Linked DNA regions of Homo sapiens: region 1 is linked to region 2. The links come from fine-mapping of genetic effects on gene expression. Tissue or cell type: whole blood. Region 2 holds a variant in brackets; the other region holds the start of a gene. All regions are shown on one strand. Distances are from middle to middle.

Region 1 (4,667 bases), 35 kb after region 2:
CCAGGGACCTGGAGCCTGGGACACAGTCAGTTCACTGTCCTGAGGGGCCACCCCAGCACCCTGGAGTAAGGGGGAGAGGAGAGGACTGCAGGCTCACCCTGGCCATCAGAGGAGCATGTGGTGTGACTTTGCTTTAGTACCCCCACCTCTCTGGGCCTAGGTTTCTCCGATGAGACCAGGAGTGAGCCCCCAGGTGACTTCTGTCCTTGTCCACCTGGGAGGCTCAGGCTTACGCTTGTAGAGCCTTAGCTGGGTGGCCATTATGTGCCTGGGGGTTGCACGAAAAGCAGGGCCTGGGGGCAGGGGGGTGGCCTGTGCCCCAGTGCTACAGCACCAGACAGTGCCAGTCCTTGACCCACAAACCTGGGGCAGGGGGCATGGATATGATCTCTCCCAGGTGGGCCTATGAGGATGGGCAGCGAAGGACATTCCAGGCAAGGAGGCTGCGCGAGCGACGTGCAGAGGAGACCACAGATGTGCCGGGAGGCGCCAAGCAGGCCTGCTTTCAGGTGAAGTGTTCCTGCCCCAAACCCCGGTGTTTCCAGGAGGGCAGCACGGACGGTAGCGCCACTGCAGAAGGAACTCTGCCCATCCGGGGAAAGAATCCCCACTCCCCAAAGCCTGGAAGGAGGTGTTGGCCTGGGGACAGCCCTTCACCCCCACCCGCTGGAGCTGATAGTGGGTGGGGAGCAAGGGTGGAGCAAACAGCGAGATCAGAAGCGGGAGGGGAAGGTGAGAATGGAATCCGCAGAGGACACGCCCCCTCTGTCTCCAGGGCACCCAGCGATTAGCAGCAAATTCTGGGCTTTGTGCCCCGCAGCTTCCCACTGGGTAACCGACCGGGAAGTTCTAACTCCCCTCAGCGCACAACACCTCCCCAACACACTCCCTTTTCAACGAGTCTCTCCCCCAAGAAGCAGGCTCCGACGCCACAGATTTAATACTTAAGGCCACCGCTACCCACTCTTCCGCCAGGGCTCTCAGCGCTGGCCGGGAGCTGAGGGTTTATTCGAGCCAAATCCAAGTAGATGAAGAGGCGGTGAACAAGGGCAGGTGCTGGGAGAAAAGTGGGACCAAACAGGGATAAGCGGCCGGCCCTCTCAGCAACTCCCGCCGCCAACCACCCTCCCCCGCCCCCGACATCTAAATCCTGGTGAATAAATTAACCCTCAAGGTAAAAGCAGAGAAGCCAGAGGCCCAACAGGGAAGTGCCGTGCCCGACGCCCACGGTCGGGGCATGGGAGAGCCTGGACTGCACGCCCGCCCGGGCCCTCCCGGGGACAACTGCATGGGAGGAACCCCAGAGCCGCGACCGCGCCTCGGAGAAGGTGCCCCACACCGGCTCGCCCGACCCACCCACCACCCCCCTTCCGCCCCCAACAGCTCACAAAACCGCGTAGGAAGGGGCGGCGTTCCAAGGCGTGACTCGGCGCCAGAGTGGTTCAGTGCCCTCCAAGGCCAGCCGAGTAGGGGGTCGGCTCCGTAGCCCCAACCCCGCTGGATGGCTGCGCGGGACGGGGTGGAGTCAGTCCCGAAATATACGGCCGGGGGAGGGGACCCTGCTCCCAGTGCGCAACGGATGGGGATGGGGGAGGGGAAGGAGATGAGCCCGGGACCTCGGCGCGGGGGGCAGTGGGGCATCCTCCCGGCAGTCCTGGCCTCCGCTCAGCCACGGTGCTGCCCCGGCGCCCCAGACCTCCCGTCCGAGCGTGCCCAGAGAGAATAAAGACACCTGCCCTCGCGGACAGCCCGGGCCTGAAGTCAATTTACGCCCACGAGACCCGCCCGAGGCAAGAGAACTGTGGTCCCCATTCACAGACGCGGCGACCCCCGCCAGCGGGAAGCCGCGAGGCCAGGGCGTGCTGGTGGGCCGACCTCCCTCCCCGGACGCCTCGCCCCGGCCCGGCCCGGCCCGCCGCCTCCTTACCCCCCGCGCATCCAGCCAAGAAGTCCAGCGCCATGGCCGGGTCCCCGGCGAGGCCGCCTTTCCTCCTCGTCCTCCCCCTGAGGCCCCTCGCCGGGCTGGGCGCCGTCGGGGTCCCCGAGCGCGCGGTGCCGGGGCTGGGCCTGGCCGCTCCTCCTGGCGCGGAGCCCGGGCAGGCGCGGTCAGGGATGGTGGGGATGGCGGCAGCAGCTAGACCCGCGCTGGTCCCTCGGCGGCAGCTGACTCGCTGGATCCCCTCCGGCCCGCGGTCCCTCACCTCGGGCCGCGCGCCCCGCCCCTCGTGCCTGCCGGCAGGGCCCGGGTGGGGGCGCCGAGTGAGGCCAATGGGCGGGCACGGCGCGGACAACACCCCGGGCACTGCGCTTCGCCGCCGCGCCTCATTGGCCGGGCGTGCGCGGGAGGCGGGGCGCGGGGGACGTGGTGGGCGCGCGGGCGGGGCGCGGGGACGCCTCAGACAAAGAGCGCGCTGGGTGCGCAGGTCCGGCGGGAGGGGACGCGCGGGGTGGCGGGGTTGAGCCGAGGACTCCCCCACCCGGAGTACGCGGGGTGGCTCTGGTCTGGACCGGGTCGGGAACCGGACCCTGGGTTCGGAGTCCGGCGCCGCCGCAGAACCTCAGCGCCCTAGTCTGTGCCGTGCGGACCCTGCCGCGAAAACGGCCGTGGAGCGCCGGGACGTTCCGAGGCCCGCAGACTGGGACGCCGCTAGTTGCGAAACTCCGCGAGCGGGAATCGCCCGTGGGGAGCCTCTGCCCGTCCCGCCTGCGCGCCCGCGGCGGCGGTGGCCTCCGGGGCTTCCGGACTCCTGGCCGAACCCGCCGGGTTCTGGGGGTCGGACGCGCACGGGCGCTTCCTGCGGAGCCTGAGGCTGGGATTTGGGCGGAGAGCAGGGAACCTTAAAAGGGAAAGGGGCCATGGGCAAAGGGCGCAGCAGGCCTTCGGGCCACAGCTCCTTCCCGAGGACTGCGGGTCGCGGGAGCCGCGGAAGGTTGTGGAGAGAGGGAGGTTCCTGGACTGGGCTGCAGAGTGGAGTCGGGCCAGATCGCAGCGCCTCCGTCAGCGGCGGCCGGACGGGGCGAGACCGGAGGGGCTCGGTAGGGGCCGCGCTCAGGCGCTGAAGTCGGAGGGTGCTTGGCTCTGGGTCACCAGGGTATCCATGGGCTGCGGGGATGAATGAGAGCCGAGTCTGACTCGGCCCCCCAGGAGTCCCTGACATTCGCAGTGGCAAGGGACTGCCCTGGTCCCTGTGGAGCGTCCCATTCGGTGACTTCCCACCAGCCCTTCCCCAGCGCCTCTGGAGGTCCAGACTGTCAGGTTGGAGCCTGGGAGCAGGGACGGGCCAGGCGCTTTCTCTTCGCTGTAGGAGTCAGATCAGCCTTAGGCCGGGCCCAGCTTCCTTCTTTAGGGCCTGCAGGCAGGCAAGGCCACACCGTGTGCCACGTTTCCAGGTTTAGGGTCACATGGTTCTTTTATCCAAATTCCAGTGGGTACCTACCTCCTGGAGGTGCAGGTCGAAAGGTTCTGTGTATTTGGTACTAGGACACACAGGTAGGTGTTGTCAGTAGTGCAGCCTGGTGCTAGGGGCAGGGGTCCCCAGTGCTCATGTTAGTTTCCTTTTAGAGTCTAAGTAGAATGTTAAGCAGAGACCCAAACCCTAGGTCTGCTGACTCCTAGTCCAGGGCTCGTGATGGCTGGTGGGCCCTGAACGAGGGGTCTGGAGGCCTGGGTTTGAATATCGACAGCCTCTCTGACCCACTTGGTTGCCTCAGGGAGGCAGGTGTGCGGATGGGGGAGAGTGGCCCATGGGCCAGAAAAGCAGTGGTATGGGGGCCCCAAGAGAAGCCCAGACCCAAAAGGGCAGGAGCTGGCTGTGGGGCTACTCAGGTGGCTGGAGGCCTCCTGCAGACACAGTGATTACACTGGACTACCTACATGTAGTCACTTACCTTAGGAACAGGATGTCCTTGGGATGCTGGAGGGCTCATGAGGTAAAGCACAAATCCCTGCACATCCATTCCTGGTTGAGGAGGTTTGGGAGGGAAATCCAGTACCTTGACAGCATGTGGCAGTAGTGAGAAAATGATGGAAACGGATAAGGAGACAAGCATGACCTGTTTTGCTTTGTTATTGAGAGAATGCACATGCCTTGAAAATTATGCTTGGGGCAGGTTGCACTGAGCTGTCAGTCCCTGGGGTCCTTGGGAAGGGGCCTAGTAGCCTGGTAAACAGTAGGTATTCCATAGTTGAGCTTCAGAAACCTCCTTGAGGCTGGGTTCAGTGGCTCATGCCTGTAATCCAGGCACTTTGGGAGGCTGAGGCAGGAGGATCGCTTGAAGCCAGGAGTTTGAGGCCAGCCTGGGCAACATAGTGAGGCCCCATCTCTAAAAAAAAAAAAAATCGGCAGGATGTGGTGGCGCATGCCTGCAGGCCTGTAGTCCTAGCTACTCAGGAGGCCGAGGCAGGAGGGTCGCTTGAGCCCAGGAGGTCAAGGCTGCAGTGAGCTATGATCGAACCATTGTGCACCAGCCTGGATGACAGAGCAAGACCCTATTTCAAAAAGAAAAACCTCCTTGCAGGGAGGGTCCTTTGTTGAGAGAGCTGAGGCAGGCCGTGTGAGGGCAGCAGTGGGATCGTGCCAGGCCTGGGAGATGAGGAGTGCGGGCCCTTAGCTGTGCACTTTGCAAGGAGAGGGCAGGGTTCTGGGTGTGTGTGTGTGGTCGGGGGA
Region 2 (4,000 bases):
GTTCCTCCTAGTGCCATGCTTTCTCCAGTTTCTCAGTCCTTTATCGAAGGGTGGTTAAGAATGAACTCATTTTTAGCTAGACCCATTTCACACATAGCCAATGGTAATAAGAGCTATCATTTCCCAGGTGCTTAACATACAGCTCTTAAGTAGGTAGCATTATACCTTTTTACAGAATAAGAAACCGAGGCCGAGAAGTTACAGTTTGCTCAAGGTCATGCAGCTAGTAGAAGTCACCTCCAAGTCACACATCCCATACTGCCTCATTCATAATGTCTATGCTGTTGTCATCATTGTCTCCAGGTTCAAAAGGACTCTCTGGGTTCAAAAGTGTCCGTTGGTGAATGGAAGACTTAAATCTTAGTTACTTCTGAATAGTTGAGGAGGGTGAGAAGATGTTCTCAGTGGTAGTATATGATTTTTACTGTTTACTCGCAAAATGAAACACTGTTTTAACCTAAGTATATTTTTGAAAAATGACTTTTTTCATTGTTGGCATTCAAATAAAATCTTAAAAGTACCAACGTATACTGCTGCATTTGCCACTCTGTGTGAAGGAGGATGATTTGCCAAGGAGCTTAAGAGTGGCTGCATTTAAATCTTCCACTTACTCCTTAAGTCCAAGGGTATTTGTCCAAATGCATTTTAAACTCTCATTCTAAAATTAAATATATTTCTAAATACTAGCACACATTTTGAAAATGACATTTTAAGAAAAAATAATACCACTTATAATAACAAACCAAGAGTTGGGTAAATGGTACCTGAGACTGTTCTCTTTACTTTGGGGGCGTATTTGAAAATTTCCATGATAAAATATCTTTTAAAAAATTAAGTGGCCAGGCGCGGTGGCTCATGCCTGTAATCCCAGCACTTTGCGAGGCTGAGGCAGGTGGATCACGAGGTCAGGAGATCGAGACCATCCTGGCTAGCACGGTAAAACCCCGTCTCTACTAAAAATACAAAAAAATTAGCCTGGTGTGGTGGCAGGCGCCTGTAGTCCCAGCTACTCAGGAGGCTGAGGCAGGAGAATGGCCTGAACCTGGGAGGCGGAGCTTGCAGTGAGCCAAGATTGCACCACTGCACTCCAGCCTGGGCGACAGAGCAAGACTCTGTCTCAAAAAAAAAAAAAAAAAAAAAAAAAAAATTAAGTTACTAGGAATAACTCTAGCAAAATGTATGGGAGGCCGGGTGCCGTGGCTCATGCCTGTAATCCTAGCACTTTGGGAGGCCGAGGTAGGTGGATCACCTGAGGTCAAGAGTTCCAGACCAGCCTGACCAACATGGTGAAACCCCGTCTCTACTAAAAATACAAAAAAAAAAAAAAAAAATAGCCAGGCATGGTGGCACGCGCCTGTAATCCCAGCTACTCAGGAGGCTGAGGCAGGAGAATCGCTTGAACCCAGGAGGCGGAGGTTGCAGTGAGCCAAGATCAAACCACTTCACTCCAGCCTGGGCAAAAGAGTGAAACTCCATCTCAAAAAAGAAAAGAAAAGAAAATGTATGAGAGAGGACCTTACTAAGCCATGTTTACTAAGATTTAATTTGCATATGGTAAAGTCTACCCCCCTTTTAGGTATGTATGTACTATTCTGTGAATTTGGACAAACAGTCATGTAGCCATCTTCACACTCAACACAGAATGTTTCCAAGGAGTCCTAGGCAGGTGGATTGCTTGAGCTCAGGAGTTGAGAATAGTCTGGGCAACATGGTGAAACCACATCTCTACAAAAACAAAATAAAACAATGTTTCAGTAGAATTTTCAAAGAATAAGTGTTCACTCTTAATTGGGAACATTAAAACTTAAAAAAAAAAAATAGGCTGGGCGCGGTGGCTCACGCCTGTAATCCCCGCACTTTGGGAGGCCAAGGCAGGCGGATCACGAGGTCAGGAGATCGAGACCATCCTGGCTAACACGGTAAGAAACCCCGTCTCTGCTAAAAATACAAAATATTAGCCGGGCATAGTGGCGGACACCTGTAGTCCCAACTACTCGGGAGGCTGAGGCAGGAGAATGGCATGAACCTGGGAGGCAGAGCTTGCAGTGAGCTGAGATTGC[G/A]CCACTGCACTCCAGCCTGGGCGACAGAGCGAGACTCTGCCTCAAAAAATAAATAAATTAATTAAATTAAATTAAAAATAAATAATGTTTGAGTGGAATAGAGACCTTTCATATCAATCACTGTTATTTTCCAAACTGATGTAACCTCAAGGTGGCGCAGTGGCACCAAACTTTTGTTCTACCTGATTTTGTGAACTCAGGCCAGAACTCCAGGATTTATTTGTATTTAAGATAAGAAAGGCTAGTTCAGAGTCCTGTTTACAACAGGCACTTAAAAAAACTTGCTAACTGGTATTACAGGTTGAGCATCCTTTATTCAAAATGCTTAGGAACAGTAGCACTTTGGATTTTGGGGTTTTGCATATGCATAATGAGTTATCTTAAGGCTAGGACTCGGGTTTAAATACGAAATTTGAAATTCATTTGTGTTTCATTACACCTTATACACATAGCCTGAAGGCAATTCTGTACTTTTTTTTTTTTGAAACAAGGTCTCGTTCTGTCACCGAAGTTGGATCGCAGCCTCAAATTCCTGGGCTGAAAGGATTCTACCTCCTCAGCCTCCCAAGTAGCTGGGACTGTAGGCATGTGCCACCACGCCTGGCTAACTTTTTATTTTTTTTAGAGACGGGGTGTTGCTTTCTTGCCCAGGCTGTTATACAGTATTTTAAATAATTTTGTACACGAAACAAAGTTTTCACTGTGACCCTATCACACGAGTGCATCATGTTAGCACTCAGATAGTTTCAGATTTTGGATTTTGGATGTTAGGGATGCTCAATCTATAATCCATTTACGAGAAAGGACGAATATCTACAGGGTTGGGAAGGGGGAGGACACTGAATTGAAAATGTTCTCGTGGGTGGGCGGATCACGAGGTCAGGAGATCAAGACCATCCTGGCTAACATGGTGAAACCCCATCTCTACAAAAATACAAAAAAATTAGCCGGGCATGGTGGCGGGCGCCTGTAGTCCCAGCTACTCAGGAGGCTGAGACAGGAGAATGGCATGAACCTGGGAGGCGGAGCTTGCAGTGAGCCGAGATAGCGCCACTGCACTCCAGCCTGGGTGACAGAGTGAGACTCTGTCTCAAAAAAAAAAAAAAGAAAGAAAAGGAAAAGAGAAAATGTTCTCGTAGAATTTAAAATAACAAATATGTATAGTATCGGACCAACTCCATGGAGATAAGTGATAGTTACCAGATCTGTTGTTCCTCATATACTCCTAGGGCTGGAAAGTTTAACCAATGATTTCATGTGTTCAGGTTACAGATCAGGTCATCCTTTTCCCAGATTATAAGTGAAGAAGGACATTGTTAGGGCCTTCACAAACTTAAAAGATCACAGAATTAATTTTTTTTTAAGGAGTATTTTTTTTGTAACAAAAGAGTGGTGGTAAATTAGCTCTTGCTTTTAAGGATTCACTTAGGTGGGCTTTTTTTTTTTCGACTTTGACTTTTTAAAAAATTTCAATAGCTTTTGGTGTATAAGTGGTTTTTGGTTACATGGATGAATTCTATATTGATGAATTCTGAGGTCCGAGTGCACCCCTCGCCAGAGCAGTGTACACTGTATCCGGTATGTAGTCTTTTATCCCACACCATTCTTTCCCTACTAAGTCCCCAAAGTCCATTATATCACTTGTATCCTCATAGCTTAGTTCCCACTTATAAGTGAGGACATACCGCGTTTGATTTTCCATTCCTGAGTTACTTCACTCAGAGTAGTGGCCCCCAGCTAGTTTTTTGTTGTTTTTTTTTTGTTTTTTTTTTTTTGAGACGGTATTTCCTTCTTGCCGCCTAGGCTGGAGTGCAGTGGCACGATCCCGGCTCACGGCAACCTCCGCCTCTCTGGCTGAAGCAATTCTCCTCCCTCAGCCTCCTCCTAAGTAGCTGGGATTACAGGCATCTGCCACCACACCCGGCTAATTTTTGTATTTT

The links. PIP is the estimated chance that this variant, and not a neighbour inherited with it, causes the effect.
Region 1: it holds the start of SLC25A29, and the variant in region 2 is fine-mapped to the expression of SLC25A29 in whole blood (INTERVAL, PIP above 0.99).

What each region holds. Positions count from the first base shown.
Region 1 is chr14:100,304,272-100,308,938 of GRCh38, forward strand. SLC25A29 (solute carrier family 25 member 29) reads right to left here and starts at 2,173. Exons shown (of 4, transcript NM_001039355.3): 1 at 1,928-2,173. The coding sequence starts at 1,961. It overlaps MIR345 (microRNA 345), which reads left to right and starts at 3,588; the gene lies at 3,588-3,685. RefSeq lists enhancers at 667-746, 797-856, 1,109-1,675, 2,884-2,953, 2,984-3,153 and silencers at 2,004-2,103, 2,164-2,633, 2,724-2,793.
Region 2 is chr14:100,269,144-100,273,143 of GRCh38, forward strand. All of the region lies in intron 2 of YY1 (YY1 transcription factor), which reads left to right. Among named protein-coding and RNA genes, the nearest start is that of MIR6764, 6.2 kb to the right of the region's middle. The variant G/A (reference allele first, on the strand shown) is at 2,061.